Linked DNA regions of Homo sapiens: region 1 is linked to region 2. Evidence: fine-mapped QTL for protein levels in blood plasma. A gene starts in region 2. The other region holds a variant in brackets. All regions are shown on one strand. Distances are between the middles of the regions. Region 1 has its middle 25 kb from the start of DPT. Region 2 holds the start of DPT (dermatopontin).

The links. A credible set is the group of variants that fine-mapping cannot tell apart. PIP is the chance, under the fine-mapping model, that this variant and not a neighbour inherited with it causes the effect. Protein levels are from antibody-based Olink assays in UK Biobank. Linkage for the fine-mapping came from a reference panel and not from the study's own genotypes, which makes the PIPs less certain.
Region 1: its variant is the best candidate, but not a certain one, in a credible set for the plasma level of the DPT protein (UK Biobank, PIP 0.70).

The regions. Positions count from the first base shown.
Region 1 is chr1:168,749,547-168,757,997 of GRCh38, reverse strand. No RefSeq gene overlaps it. Among named protein-coding and RNA genes, the nearest start is that of DPT, 25 kb to the right of the region's middle. The variant C/T (reference allele first, on the strand shown) is at 3,360.
Region 2 is chr1:168,723,837-168,732,287 of GRCh38, reverse strand. DPT (dermatopontin) reads left to right here and starts at 3,082. Exons shown (of 4, transcript NM_001937.5): 1 at 3,082-3,418. The coding sequence starts at 3,114.

The DNA.
Region 1 (8,451 bases), 26 kb before region 2:
GAGGCAAGGGGCCCAGGCCTTTGTACCACTGTATTGACCAGTCACTGGGTTGCAACTGAAGAAGGAAAAAAACATTGCACAAAGAACTTTCTTTCACCAAGGGCAATTCCTAGGAAGGCAATCAGCTGTGAACCATTGGCAGCTGATGCTCCCAGCAGCTGGGGGAAAGCATGCCTCCATCCTGAAGGCAGGACCCGAGCAATGCACTGCAGCCTCTCCTAGCCCAGGGATACACCACTGAGCAAAATCTAACACAGTTTTCTGTTTCATGGAGCTTACAGTCTAGTGGATAGTCACAGTGAAAAAAAAAAGTTGTAAAATTATATATTGGCTATGGGTGATTGGGTTGCTGAAATCTGCTCCTGTAGACTATCCCTAGGGAACTCAATGTTTCACAGCTATCAGGTATATTTTGTAAAGCTTCTGTGAGAATGTGTAAGACAGGCAGGAGACTCAGATTATTTCCATTCTACAGAGAGGAAAACTAAGGCACTGCACAGGCAGAGACTTTCCTAAGCCATATTCCAATGCAAGGGTGGAAATGATAAAAACAGCTACAGGTTGTCAAGAATCCTCTCACTCTTAGGCCTCCTGTAAACATTACCAGATGATTTTCCATGTTGACTTTCTTTGTGGAGGTGTTTTTGGTCTTCTTTGTTATTTTGTTTTTTCTTTTAATATAGTTTATTCTTTTTGGAGGATGAATAGCTCATTAGGGTTCTGGCTTCATTTACTCTCCTTAATTTGAGTGGGCTCCTACAGGTAATACCTATCTGGAAGGTAAAGATGAACAAACTGAGGTGCAGATGACCTTAATTGCCTATGGTCACAGCCATTAAATGACAGAGTTTGGGATGAGCCTATCTGGTCTTTCCTTACCCTTTCATTACCCCATGCCCAGGCATTCTGATACATGGCCTGGAAGCTCGCATAGTGAAGTGGGGAGATAAAGTGGATTTCTGTGTTTCTCTATCTTCTATTGTGCATTCTGTGTCCCCATCAGAAACAGCATTGACTTTCAAACAATTTGCAAGTAAATTCTCTGGATTTTAGAGAATAGTACATGGGACACGGTCAAAGATGAATTTAACCTCAGGGGAAGGCTGCTACAAAACCAGATGTCCTAGCTCACCAAATATAATGAAGTTGCACTAGGAAGTGGACAGGAGAGGGAAGAGTTTAGGAGCCCTTCTCTGGCTTAGCAGAATGAATGCTGCAAGGATCCAGCCCTCAGCTGGAAAGAAGAGCCTCTCATGGGAAGTGGGCACTGATATCTCGTGTTTGAGCATACCGCAGAGGAGATCATGAGGGAGGGGCTGTAAAGTAGTATAGAATAGGGGAAAGCATTAACTTCACAGCTAGTCAGACTGGTTATAAAGCTCAGTCTTGACATTCTGTAGGGTTTGCCTTGGGTACATCACTTCACCTCGCTGAGACACAGCTTCCCAGTATGTAAACCAGGGATATTCTGATCATCTTCACAGCAATATGGTGACAATTAAATAAGAATGTATGTTAAAACGCCAATAGCAGAGCAGGCACTGGGTAATTAGTAGCTCTACCTCTTAGCAAGGTATGAGCTCCCACTTTTGGTCTTCTTGCTGTAAAGAGGCTGGAACTCAGAAAATGTTCAGAAAACCAGTCTGCTTCCCTGGGGGTGAGTTGTGACCCAGGGCAGCCACAGCTGACACAAGCCAGACTTTTCCTTTATTGCTCTACAGAAAGGAACAGGGACATGGTTCTGGTTCACTGGCTGGGGACCGGCAGTTTCCACCAGGATAGCTTAGAAGAATGAGGCAGTGAGTACAGGAACTGCTAGAAGCGAGATTACCTCCCCAGTGCCATTTCCCTGGGGAGCCCTACGCCTCTCAGAAAGCTGTAACAAGCAGGAGGGTTTTGTAGAGTCCCATAGGTCCTGGGAAGGGGTGGGAGAGAAACAGCCTACTTCTCAAGGTCACTTGCAGGCTGTATGTCACCCACACCTTTGAGCAGAGTGTGAAGGCAGCACCACCCTCTGAGATCACCTCCTTGTATTTTGCCTGATGAGCAGCAGGCTCTCGTGGGCAGAGATTTAGAAGAGTGGGAACTTCATATTCTGGAACAAATGGAGCATACCTGGCACTGGGGCCTCGGCATTTATTATTCTTTGGTATCCTTTAGCTCTACTTTAATTTTCAATTAATATGGTGAACTGTTTTTCACTTGTCAGCAACCTTGACTAGGTGCCCTCTCTCTGCAGAGCACAAGCTGCATAGCACAGGGCTTGAGAGCTCTGACTTCAGTTCACATGATGAGGAATAGAAATCTGCTCCACTGCTTACTAATTGTATGACCTTTAACTCCTAGAATTTCAATCGGTAAAATGGGAATAACGTTAATCCACACCAGATGCAAATGAGCTAAGGCACTGTGAGGTGCTATTCTAATTCCTTACACCTGTTCAATGTTCAATTAATGTCACTAATACAACGCAGTGGTTCTGTCAAGCAGTCAGTCCTTTGGTAGTAAGAGTTGTATGATCAACCTGGCCACAAGGAAAAGCAAAGGAAATATAGTAGAATGAAATGCACAGATTCCATGACATAGAAGAAATATGGGATGAAGAATTTTGAAAAATGACCTTAAAGGCATTTATTCAGGACAGATGGCCATACTGTTTCTGATAAAAGTCAGTCTGCTCTAAGGGGGCCTCAGCTTTAGAACTGCATTTTAATGAGAAGGATTCTTAACTTAGTTATCATATGGCATAGGGGTGTTGGTGATAATTTCATTCATTCCACAAATATTTTTACTGCCTACCATGTGCAAAAGTTTTCAAAATAAAATAACTGACACATTCAGAGTAGTGTGGTACATATAATTTCTTGTCAACTGGATTGGAATTATTCGGAGTAAAACTGAAGAAGGCCAATTTAGCCTTTGTATTTTCTGCTTGCTCTTCTAGCATTCTCCTGCCCCAGGTGCCTCCAGCCTCCTGCCACCTCCCACCACATCCCATCTCAGCTCATGTCCTTAGTTGTTTTCTAGGCTCTCCCCTCTTCTCGATGCAATCAAATCCTATCTTTCCTTGCCCATCATGTCTTTGGTTTCCTCAATGTCCCAGATTCAGGTATATGTGTGAAATTGAACTGGGAGACCATATTTTATATTACATTCATGAGTTACCATCTCATTCAAGTGTTACACATTCCAGAAATATTTACACCAGAAAGGGAGGTAGCTGGGGACTCAACACCTTGGCTCAAGGAACTGAATCTAATAGGATTTCAGTCTCTACAACAGGAAGATGAGAGGCATACAGATCTTTCTGCTTCCTCCTACTCTGACATTTTCCAAAAAAATGGGAAGAAGTAAAAGAT[C/T]GTGCAGTGAGAACAGCGTGCCAGATACTGAACTGGACTTGGGAACTACATAAATAAATAAGACAGTCTAAGTAAATTTTTAAGTTAAAAAAGAAGTAGGCAATTTGGAGAGCACTAAGATACCCAATACTTTTCAGTCCAAATGGAGATTTTAGCCATGTTATGATTGTGACATGATCTTGCCATTATCTGCGTATGTCGAAATTGCCTATGTTTGCCGCCTTTCACTTCCCACCTGACATGTCTCCTGTTTGACCTGTTGGAGCAATTTTTAAAATGCTCCAGTTCATTAAGCAGATTTTTAAAAGGGAATCTATGACTGTATCAACACAGTGCTTCTGTTAAGTCATCAATACTTTAGTTTGTTTTTCTAACATTCTGAAACAGTGGTCACATGGAGGTGGTGGAGGGGGTGTTTCTTAAGCCAAATTAAGCCAATGAGGTTTCATTAGTAGATATTAGTTCTTACCAAAATGTGATAATTTTGTGTATATTCACAGTTGGAGCCAAATATTTTTTCCTGGGGAAATATCTTTGAAATCATAGTGCAAGTAGAAAGTTTAATTCATTAGGAAAATTCAGTTTTATTTAAAAATATACAAAAGGAACCCAAGGCTTATAATTTAGTCATTCGATTAAAACTTTGTAGCACTAGGCCGGGCGCGGTGGCTCACGCCTGTAACCCCAGCACTTTGGGAGGCCGAGGCGGGTGGATCATGAGGTCAGGAGATAGAGACCATCCTGGCTAACAAGGTGAAACCCCGTGTCTACTAAAAATACAAAAAATTAGCCGGGCGCGGTGGCGGGCACCTGTAGTCCCAGCTACTCGGGAGGCTGAGGCAGGAGAATGGCGTGAACCCGGGAAGCGGAGCTTGCAGTGAGCCGAGATTGCGCCACTGCAGTCCGCAGTCCGGCCTGGGCGACAGAGCGAGACTCCGTCTCAAAAAAAAAAAAAAAAAAAACTTTATAGCACTATATGGATTAAAAGTCGGAAGATATCAGATCTTTCATTTTTAACTTGATATCTCTGGAATATTGAATTTTAAATTGTTATATTTGAAGGAAAAGCAGTGCCCTTGTGTTTTACATCCTCTTGGTATTCATTCTTAGTATTCAAACTATCCAAAACACTATGCAACAATCCTTTAGAACACGGACCTGCAGTCCGTGGATAAATTCAAGGTGTCCATAAAGTTTCTGAAAAGAAATGTTGAAAGTCAAATGTATGTACTTTCTTCTGGAAAGAAGGTTCACAGTTTTCATCAGATTCTCCAAGTTATCTATGATCTCCAAAATGTTAAGCCCAATTGTCTTGGAGATGAGCTAACCAGTCATCTCATTGTACCAATTGGGAAACTGCCCACCTGCTCCCAAACTTATATGGCTAAGCAACTTGCCTGACATCCTCCATGAGCGCAGCAGATCCTGGGCATGAACAGAAATCTGTGGACTTCCAGGAACATAAGAATTAGAACCATTCCCACCAACACCAATATCCCCTGGACCTTTCAGGCAAACAATAGATACTAAATTTAGTTTTTGAAAATATTCTTGGCTCGGCATGGTAGTTCACGCCTGTAATCCCAGCACTTTGGGAGACCAAGGCAGGTGGATCATGAAGTCAGGGGTTCAAGACCAGCCTGGTCAAGATGGTGAAACCCCATCTCTACTAAAAACACAAAAATTAGCCAGGTGTGGTGGTGGGCACCTATAATCCCAGCTACTCGGGAGATTGAGGCAGAGAATTGCTTGAACCCGAGAGGCAGAGTTTGCAGTGAGCCGAGATAGCGTCACTGCACTCCAGCCTGTGTGAGAGCAAGACTCTTGGAAAAAAAAATCTTTTCACTTTAACTTATAAATTACCCTTTAACATTGAGGAGGAGCTGGGATTGTATCAGTGAGACACTGTATTTCTTAGGTTTGCCATCACCCAATTTGGCACTGATTTAGGACAGGGGCTGCATATGTGTTTGAATAAACACTCCCTCCCTCGTTGTCTGCCATACTTCATCCTGCATACAAACTTGATGCCTATAGCAAGGGTTTGGTCTCCTTTGATTAAGCCCTGGAGTTGAGGGCGGGGGGTGTTATCCGCTTTTGTTTCATGGAAAAGTACTCCCATATCTAGCCCCGATTCCTGAAAACTCATACCACAGTTCTCTTCCCAGGACTTTCAGATGTGAGGGGTTTGCACAACAGCGTCTTGGACAATAACAGAGAAGATAAAATTTCACAGATAAGGAGGAAGTGGTGTGCGTGGAAACTTGCAGTGGTTTAATTTCCATGCCCTTCTCCCCACACCCAGTCTCTCAGTGGGATGCTTGTCTGCACGTATAACTATGAATTATAGAGCTCCCATAAAAATGTGAGTCATCACCCAGTTAATATTTACATACACAACGTGTAAACTCCTTTGTCTTTAGCTGGGTGACAGTAAATAATGTTGAATCTGAAAGGTAAAAATCATCTGTCAGCAGCTGAGTGATCTTGATTCCTTTTTGTGGAAAACTTGGGAAAAATTGCCCAATTCATCCGTACATCAATGCTTCTCAAGCAACTTGCTTAATATTCATAACTCTAGTAATTGATTCACACTTTTCTTTCTGACACATAAATATTTTTCTCAATTATTTCCATCTCTTTTTCTCACTTGCAATCAATTTCCTGACCATCCATGTTAGAGTGACTGTTAAACATGGTTTACTTCTTGCTAGTTTTACTGTTGTTTAGGGGACATGATAACTGTCTTCCTAGTTATCATCTTAGTAGAAAAGCTTTCTGTTTTAATTTGTCATTTCAGTTCAGTTCAACAATGTCTTCTGAGCCTTTACTATGTAACCCCCACTGATTGTGAGGACCTCATCACTGAAACAGTCTTTGTCCTTAAGGAGCACATGAGCTTGTATAGATGTTTTATATATGCTACTAATTTTTACACATGGCAATATGACAATTTCATGTTGAAAAGAAATGCACTACAGACAGTGTGTTATGGCAGCACAGGGAGCAATTACAGAAAAACCTTCAGACAGGAGGATGCTACTGAGTTGAGCTCTTATTGCCTAGCAGAGTTAATAGGCATCCTTTATTGACTGCTTGCTACCAAGCATTGTGCTCAGTCTTTCACATGCATTTTCTTATGTTATACAAGAATCCTGTGAGGCAGACAATGTTATTATCCCTACTTTACAGTTGGGCGAACACAGGCTTTGAGTTCAAATAACTTTAACTGCCAAAGGATTTCTTGCTGACTCCGCAGTCTCTCCCCTCGCCACTCCACCACACACCTACTCATTTGAGTAGATTTTTTAAACAGACAGAAGATGGAAAGCATTCCAGGCTGCACTTCTATGTTTACTGAATGAGGAGGGAATGTGGAGTCTGGTGGCAGGATTGTGGCAGGCTAGAAAAATAGCCTTGGAATGATTCTCAACTACCAAGAGGTTACTATGTGCCAAGCAGTGCCTGAGTACTTCACAGACATGATTATCATTTAATCCTTATAATAATCTTGAGAACTGGATATTATTATCTCAATTTTTACAATTGTGGAGACTCAGAGTTTAACTGTACTTGCTTGAGACATCAAAGAATATTGAAGAGCAGGGATTTGATCTGTAGTCTGGCTAGGATCTTTAGGACCTCTCTAATCCATTACAGGGAAAGGAGCTTTCACAACCCTGATCAAGAACTTCCTGTCTTTAATTATTACTATACCTTCACTTCCTTTCTTTCTTAAGCCCAGGACCAGAAAGCAAATTAAAAATTCAATGCATTTCCCATCAAAATACCAAAATACCATCATTCTTCACAGAACTTGAAAAAACAATCCTAAAATTCATATAGAACCAAAAAAGTACCTTCATAGCTGAAGCAACACTAACCAAAAAGAGCAAATCTAGAGGCATCACATTACCCAACTTCAAACTATACTAGCAAAGACTATAGTCACCAAAACAGCATGGTACTGGTATAAAAACAGGCACACAGAATAATGGAACAAAATAGAGAACCAGCAATAAAGCCAAATACTTACACCCAACTAGTATTTGACAAAGCAAACAAAAACGTAAAGTGGGGAAAGGACACCCTATTCAACAACTGGTGCTGGGATAATTGGCAAGCCATATGTAGAGGAATGAAACTGGAGTCTCATGTCTCATCTTATAAAAATATCAACTCAAGGTGGATCAAAGACTTACATCTAAGACCTGAAACCATAAAAATTCTAGAAGATAACAGTGGAAAAACCTTCTAGACAGTGACTTAGGCAAAAACTTCATGACTAAGAACCCAAAAGCAAATGCAACAAAAACAAAAATAAATAAATGGGACCTAATTAAGGAAATTAAAGAAAAAGCTTCTGTGCAGCAAAAGAAATAATCAGGAGAGTACACAGACAACCCACAGAATGGGAGAAAAATTTTGCAATCTATGCATCTGACAGAGGACTAATATCCAGAATCTAAAAAGAACTCAAACAAATCAGCAAGAAAAAAATACTAATCCATGTCCCCTAAGGACATGAATAGATAATCCTCAAAAGAGGATATATAAATGGCCAAGAAACATGAAAAACATGCTCAACATCACTAATGATCAGGGAAATGCAAGTGAAAACCACAATGCAATACCACCTTACTCCTGCAAGAATGGACATAATAAAAAAAAATTTAAAAAAAATAGCTGTTGGCATGAGTATGGTGACAAAGGAACACTTTTACACTGCTGGTGGGCATGTAAACTAGTACAACCACTATGGAAAACAGTGTGAAGATTCCTTAAAGAACTAAAAATAGAGCTACCATTTGATCCAGCAATCCCACTACTGGGTATCACCCAGAGGAAAATAATTCATTACATGAAAAAGACACTTGCACACATGTAGTTACAGCAGCACAATTTGCATTTGCAAAAAGTATGGAACCAGCCCAAATGCCCATCAGTCAATGAGTGGATAAAGAAAATGTGATATATATATATATATATATATATATATATATATATATATATATATACATACACACACACACACACATACACATATATATACACACATATATATACACACATATATACACACATATATACA
Region 2 (8,451 bases):
GGATGAGTTAGGTTGCTTTCAGCTTTAAGTAACAGAAATCTATATTAAAACTGGACCATAGCATGAAGATATTTATTTTTGCACATTAAAGGGAATCCAGCTGAGGTAGTTCTAGCTGTAGTTGAAAGAAATCTGCGGAGAGTGGAGATCAGGCAGAGGCCCTGGAAATTGTTGGAAAACAAATGTATAATAAAGATGAGTGTTTATGATAATCTGCTTTGTCTCTTAGAGCTCTTTAAGGTTTAAAATAGCTCATATCATGTCCAGAATGCAAGATACAACTCATGAGCATCAGGATGATAAACTGAAAAAATTAAAAAAAAAAAAAAACCCTCTAGCATAGAGGTTCTCAACCCTGGCTTCCGGTGAGAAGCCTATAGGGAAGGTTTCAAAGGACGTCATTGTCAGGACCCTGCTCAGAAGCTTCTGATCTGATTGGTCCAGAAATTGCTTAGACTCTGGAGGTTTCCAAAAGCTTTCCAGGTAATCCTTAAATGCTGATAAGGTGGAGAATGATTGCTTCAGCATATCATGAATCAGAGAGATCCTTCTAAGCTAGGAAGAATTCCGATGCCAGCACTGGGCAGTTACTTACGGATGGAAGTGGTGGGAGAAGATGGTGCTAAAAACAAAACTAAGCCTCACATAGCTGTTCAGCCCAGATCCTCTCCCCCTCGCTTCAGTAACCATGATCATCAAAGAAAACTGCATGCCCAACACACACACAAACACACACACACACACACACACACACGAGTTACTTGTTGCTTTATTCTCATGTATGACTGTCTTTCCCTTTCAAGACTATCTTGGTGTTTGATCTAGACTGAATACCGTCTGGTAAATGTGCCACAGGCTAGGCAGATGGTGGGATTAATAGTGTGATTTTTCTCTGGCTCCACATTCCTTTAGGAAGGTGACTCTTAGCAATTGATGTGAATAAGAATCACCTGGAAAATTTTTTAAAATATAAATACCTGAGCACCCCTTGTGAGGTTATGATTTAGCAGGCCTGGAGAAGAGCCACTGTCTACATTTTAACAAACTTCACAGAGGCTGTAGATAGAATTGGTCTATGATCACAATTCTAAGAAACTTTAAGAACAATACTGATGAGAAATGGGAAATACTATGTGCTTAAGAGATGCCCAAAGGTTTCAAAAAATTTGAAAAGCCAAATCATCAACGGATGCATGGAATGGGTAATGAGCACATGAAAAGATGCTCAAAATCATGGATCATTAGAGAAATGAAAATCACAACCACACTGAAATATCACTACAAACCTATTTGAATAGCTAAAATTTTTTAATGGCAATTTTCTGGTAGTGGTGGGCAATGGTATCACCACTTTGGAAATCAGCTAGGTAGTTTCTTGCTTTCTTTTTTTTGTTTTTTTGAGACGGAGTCTCGCTCTGTAGCCCAGGCTGGAGTGCAGTGGCACAATCTCGGCTCACTGCAAGCTCCGCTTCTCGGGTTCACGCCATTCTCCTGTCTCAGCCTCCCGAGTAGCTGGGACTACAGGCGCCCGCCACTAAGCCTGGCTAATTTTTTGTATTTTTAGTAGAGGCGGGGTTTCACCATGTTAGCCAGGATGGTCTCGATCTCCTGACCTCGTGATCCGCCCGCCTCGGCCTCCTAAAGTGCTGGGATTACAAGCATGAGCCACCACACCCGGCCTCAGTAGTTTCTTTTAAAGTTAAACATACATTACCTTGTGAACCAGCAATCTCACTCCTAGGTATTGACCCAAATGAAATAAAAATTTGTTCACACAAAAACCTATACATAGATGTTTATATCAACTTTATAATTACATTTATGTAATTCATTATATAAAATATAATGAATATAAAATTCATTACATAAAAAGTAATGAATTTTCAAAAACTGGAAACAACCCAAATGTCTTTCAACTAGTAAATGTATAAACAATCTGTGGTACATCCATGCTATGGAATATTACTCAACAATAACAAGAAACAAAATACTAACACATACAATGAGATGTTGAATTTTAAAATGGATGAACCTTAAAAGCATTATGCTAAGTGAAAGATGGACATGAAAGGCTACGTGTGGTATGATTCCATTTACTTGACATTCTGGAAAAGGCAAAACCATAGAGACAGAAAGTAAATCAGTGGTTACCAATGGCTGGGTGTTTGGGAAGATTTGACTGCAAAGGGATATAAGGGGATGTTTTGGATTGATGGAACTGTTCTAAGTCTTGATTAGGGTGCTGGCTATGTTACTGTACATTATGTATTTTAAAAGGTGAATTAATTATATGTAAATTATAACTCAATGAAAAGAAAATTCAATGTGAGGGCAAAAATACTGAAGGATAAATAGGGGGTTTATTTAGATTAAACCCATTACATTTTGAGAGCAGAGCACACTTTCTAGACTTGACTGGGTCCAATTTCAGCAGCATGGTAGAATGCTTAAGTGTAGAAATCATATCCAACTTATCTCCCCATGGGCCCATAGTACTTCCTTATGCAACTTATGAGTTCTCAGAGTAGCCCTGCAAACTGGTATACCCGCGCTTATACTCAAGGGTTAAAAAGTGTTGGATTGACAACTTAAAAAAAAAAACAGGCATTCAGCCTTACAGAAATCCTAGATGGCTCTGTTACTTCAGTCTATGATTTCGGTATTTTGAAATCACTGTCTGGGTATTTGTGTGGCCCGGAAGGCTAGTTTGGAGAACAAATACAGGGGTTTGCTAGTAGCGGGTAGGGTAGGACAGAAAGGGGTGAGGTGCTGAAAGGTGAGGGACAAATATGCTACTAATCAGTGTTTTTCAAGTGAATATTTCTACAGGGTAGAGCAGCAGTTGGCTTTTATAATCTAGATACAAAGTTGTTCTTTCTCCAGGGAGCTTCTTAGACTTACATGCTGCTGGTATATTCCTAGAATTCCACCTTAAAACAAGCTGAATGTCCTTATGGCTGACATCTCAGCATGGAAAAGTTTTGCTTAAGCAATGACACACTGCAGTTGGATCCTTCTCACCCACATCTGGAAGCCACATGTCAGCGGCAGCTATATAAAACGGTCAGACCAGCAATCTTAGAGTGACATTGTTTGCCAAAATCCCAGGCAGCATGGACCTCAGTCTTCTCTGGGTACTTCTGCCCCTAGTCACCATGGCCTGGGGCCAGTATGGCGATTATGGATACCCATACCAGCAGTATCATGACTACAGCGATGATGGGTGGGTGAATTTGAACCGGCAAGGCTTCAGCTACCAGTGTCCCCAGGGGCAGGTGATAGTGGCCGTGAGGAGCATCTTCAGCAAGAAGGAAGGTTCTGACAGACAATGGAACTACGCCTGCATGCCCACGCCACAGAGCCTCGGGGAACCCACGGAGTGCTGGTGGGAGGAGATCAACAGGGCTGGCATGGAATGGTAAGGGCCAGTCCCTGCACTGCACTGGGGCTGGGAACATCTCTGCATATCCCTCCTCCTGGGGGCTGCTAGACTCTCAAGGAATATCAGTAACCAAAGCCTGGGCAAATCCCACCCCAAACCTCACCACTGCATGCTCTGGGTGGAGCAGGGCTGCTGCTGAGCGGACTACATGACAGGACAAAAACCTGGGATGGGGAGTGTCTGTGGGAGACAGACTCCTCTGTGGCTCTGTTCCTTCCAGAAGCTGTTCTACCTACTCTCAGTTTGGGCCAGGGGCTGGTGTAGGTCGGCGAGAAGCTTGCTTACCAGACTACCAAAAGATATGTACAGAAACTGAAAGTAATAAACTTTATAGAAATTAAAACTTTCTGTGCCATCGGAATGGCATTTTTCTTTTTTAGAAATTTATTTTTACCATTTTACAAAAGTACTGGCCCACAGTAGTTTGGGAACAAGAAAAATAAACAATTGATCTCTCAGCACGGAGGGTTTGAGAACTATTGATTTAGAGCAAGTGAATGGAAAAGAGGGGACAAGGACATTTAGGCAAAAGAAAGTGGAATTAAATAGCTGTCTACTGCCTTGATTAAATGTGCTCTCTCAATTATGAGTACTGAGGTCCTTCTCTCTGCCTGAATTTAAAGTGGGTTTTATTGCTGGAAAATAGTTTACTAAAGGGTTTTGGAGAGAGGTGCTGTCTTCCCCTGACTGCATTCTGCCTTAAGCAGTGGCATGGAATTTTTTCGAGCTTGTACTTTTTTGTGGGGTGTGATTGTCTCAGCTGGGTCTCAGCCCAGGTGCTTGGTCAGGAGCTCATCCTAGTAGGCACTGACTGCTAGGCTGATTATTTACAACAGCCTAGATGGAGCCAGCACTCTAGGAGGCTTGGAGGAGAGAACGGAGGAGGCAGTCCAGGGAGGAGGAAGCCCACCTGGAGGGCTGCTGCATGTGCTATCTGTAGAGCAACCCAGATGTGTGGCAACAAGTACTTAGTGTAGTGGGGATTGGAGGGGTCAAGCACAAAATCTGGCCAGGTGTGGTGGCTCACGCCTGTAATCCCAAACACTTTGGGAGGCTGGGGAGGGAGGATCACTTGAGATCAAGAGTTCGAGACCAGCCTAGGGAACACAGCCAGACCCTATCTCTACAGAAAAAAAAAAATTAGCCCGGTGTAGTTGCATGCAGCCTGTGGTCCCAGCTACTCAGGAGGCTAAGGTAGGAGGATCACTTGAGCCCAGGGAGTCGAGGCTGCAGTGAGCCATGCTCGCACCACTGTATTCCCTCCTGGGTGGCAGAGCAAGACTCTGCCTCAAAAAAAAAAAAAAAAGAAAATAGAAAAAAGAAAAAGCATAGAACCCTGGGGGACACAACCAGTAGAGAGGTGATGATGGGAAATCCAAGAGGAAGAAACACCGATGGGTGGGGGAGCCAGGAAAGAGAGCGGGCCTTTAAGTAATGACAACAGCTACCATTTATTGAGTGCTTACCCTGAGCAGGCTCCATGCTAAGTGCTTTATGTGGATCATCTCGTGTAATGCTCAAAACAAGGGTATATCCCATTTATAGGTAGACAAACTGCAGTCTAGAGATCCAGTATTTCCTCGGCTAGAAAGCTGGGGTTTGGATCCACAGAGTCTTTGCTTCAAAGAGTTTGTACTTTGCCACAGTGACGGGCTCCTGAGAGGCTGCTGCCTCCACCCAGAGTGGGCTCCCACCCGACAGCTGACTCTGTCAGCAGAGCCAGTGCCACAGGACCAGATTCAGGGCAGTTCTTCCTCCTGGAGAGGGTGGGGACCTGCAAGACCACAGCAGAAGCCCAGCCCCAGAGGGATGATCCCTACTTGGTTACCAGGACTGTGGAGGGGCTCAGCCGGACTGTAGAAGGGGTGGGGAGAGGACTCACACAGGCAGCAGCAGGTGAGGGTGCCGGGGCTGTGGAGGCTGCTTGGACAGCCTTTGTGGGCCATTCTCATCCACCCCCATGGCCTCTGGTGAGCAGATTTAGTTATTCAAAACCCCTTCTGACAGATGCTGATTCAGAGACCAGGCTCACCTTGATTGTTGTCTCCATGACTCCTCACAGCCAGGCCCACTGCCTAATGTGGAGCATGGCAATGACCTAATTACAACTGTCCCTCCAGTCCTCACCTCTCAGGAGCACTATCGCATGGGTGCGACTCCTTTCTAACAGCCGTTTTTTGTGCCACAGTCAAGCAGCACTCAGCCATGGTTCCCCAAGCCATAGAGGAAGAGCCCTAGGCTCTGAATCAGGAGGCCTGGGTCTGGATCCTGGTTCTAATGACTTGTGGTGTGACCTTGGCCCAGACGCTCAGCCCTCCAGTCTCCCGCCTCATTTGGAAAGTGAGCAGTCAGGCTGCATGATCTCTGAAGGCTCCACAGAGCTGTGGCTCACCCCTGAAAACACTCTTGGCTTTTTCTTGCATTCTGTTGATCTTTGTGTTCATCCCTGCTAGAGAGAGAAGCCAAATGATGTTTAGTTTTAAACTTGCCAACTGTGACTGGTTTGTCATGAACTCCCAAACTATTTGAAGAAAAGCAAAAGAGGAAGAAGGTGAAATAACATGATTTTATTTGGCCCATGGGAGTCAAGGGAAAAGCTGATAGGCGAGATACCTCTTCCACCTCCTCTTACTCGGCATTTTTGGGTGTGCAGTGTCTAGTAATTTTGGTTTCCTTTCCTCCTTCCACCCTCTGTTGCCTCCTTCTCCCCGTCTACTAATCACAGGGTTGAAAACTCACAAACATGCAAAACAACTTCTTTACAATAAGATCCAGCTGCCCCAGGACTGACACGAATTACCCTGGAAGCACTTTTAAAAATGATTATGCCTTTGAGTTCAGCCTCCAGTCTCAGTGAAAAATCTGTAAGGAAAGAAATTGCTTATGGGCTGGGGAGCTATTACATCTGACGTTGGCTACAGGCTTAGTCTGTTCTCAGGGAACAGTTGTTGATGGTTTTGTGCAGTTGGGCTGCCTTGTATAACCAAATTAGCTTTCAGGTTTATTTTAAAAGAGGGGAGGAGTCTCGAATATAGGCTTGACAATAGCACATAGGATCTGCTAAAAAGAAAATCTTTCTAATCAAAGTGCCATCTTTAAAAGGTGTTGCCATCATAGCTGAGTGGTCTGTGGTGCTGCCATTGATCACAGTTTCTCTGTTGAAAATCACCTCTTCAAGTGCCGGCTTCTGAAGTTTGGATGATGGTCTCTGGCACTAACAACTACCAGGAGGCCTTACCTGGGTCCCCATGAGTGGTATTTCACCATCCCAGGGCATGCCTAGGTTGTTCTCAGGGAATCTGCTCTAACTTGGGTCAGCACAGGCTGTAGGGCACTGGGTCCTGTGTGGAATAAGATGAAGGTGAAATTTTCTAGTGAGATTGAGCTACTGTGTAGCGGAAGGAGCCCTGGGCTTGGATGCAGGAAACCTGGATTCACAGCTCCTGCTTGTATCTGTGACATTCGGTATCTCATTCTGGCAAAAAAGAAAGAGAAGAAAGAAAGAAAGAGAGAGAGAGAAGGAAGGGAGGGAGGGAGGAAGGAAGGATTGAAGGAAGGAAGGAAAGAAGGAAGGAAGAAAGGAAGGGAAAGAGAAAGGAAAGGAAAGGAAAGGAAAGGAAAGGAAAGGAATGGAAAGGAAAGAAAAGCAAAGGAAGAAAAAGGAAGGTGTGACTCCCACCTCACAAGCTGCTACTTGTGTTACTGTGATACTTGTAGGATAAAGTATAAGAAAACTCTAAAGCAAATTGAAGTCTAAAACAAATGCCTAGCACATCATGGGCAGGTAGTAAAAGTTTAGTGAATCTGAAATTGATGTGGCTGATGTTGGGCAAGCCAGCTTTCCACGGAGTCTGAGTTCAGAGGAAAAGTGGTCCATTTATTGGTATCTACTTTTTACCCCGGGCTTCAAAGAATCTCAAGGAGAAGTTTTGGAGTGGCAGTTTGTGTTAGAGCTGAGTTTATGAATTCAATGACAAGCCACAGACTGGAGAAGAGGAGAAAGAATCTATGCAACAGGGCTATGGCAGCATCGAGGTGCATTTGAAGGTGGAGAGGTTGGGTGGGAACTCCGTTTTCCATGGTCGGACTATTTCCCTAATCTAAGCAAGACCAAGCCTCAGTGTAGTTCAGGGCAGTCGTCCTGAGTCATGGTTCTGAGTATTGAGTACTCACAGGGCCCACTTCCTCGGGGATGCTTTCCAAGACCACCTCCTCTCCCCACACATCTCGCTGTCTCCACTCCCTCAGCCTGCTTTGTTTCCTACAATGCCCTTGTCACTACCTGATTGGCATTTGTTTCTTGTTTTGTCTCCCTCACTAAAATATAAGCTTCATGAACACAGGGGCTTTGTCTCATTCACCACTGTATCCCCAGTGCCTAGACAAGTGCTGGTACATAACAGGCCCTCAATACATATGCAGTGAAAGACCAAATCAGCAGTCCAAACCCCAGCCAGTGTCCCCACGGCCCTCCGCAAGGAGGCCTGCAGGTTTTCCCACAGGGGAACCATTTTGCTTATGTCTTTGATTCCCAATATTCCAGTGTCTATAGTAGGGGTTCCAACTGTATTGTTCACATCTCATTTTGATTTATTGCATTTACCAACATGCAGGATGGTCTTTCAAGATTTCTTAAGGATCGCTAAAACATGCACAGAGGATGGCTGACACACTTTGCCGCCGCAGAATGAAGTTTTTATCAGGTTTTCATTCTCTCAATAATCTTAAGGTCTCGATCAATTTCAAAAATTGAAAGTAAACTCTTTATTTCAAAAGCCATAAGGGCTAAATGCTGCACAGTAACCTATCCTGGTTTGACATTTGTGGAAGAACTGATGAAATCAGTTTGGTGTTATACCAAGGTTAATTTCTTAGCATTTCTTAGCATTCCTAGACACTCTAGAGTTATGAAAATTAACATTAGAGGAACCTGGGTGAAGAGTATACATGAATTTTGTGTGCTGTCTTTACAAGCATTCTGTAAATCTGAAATTACTTCAAAATAAAAT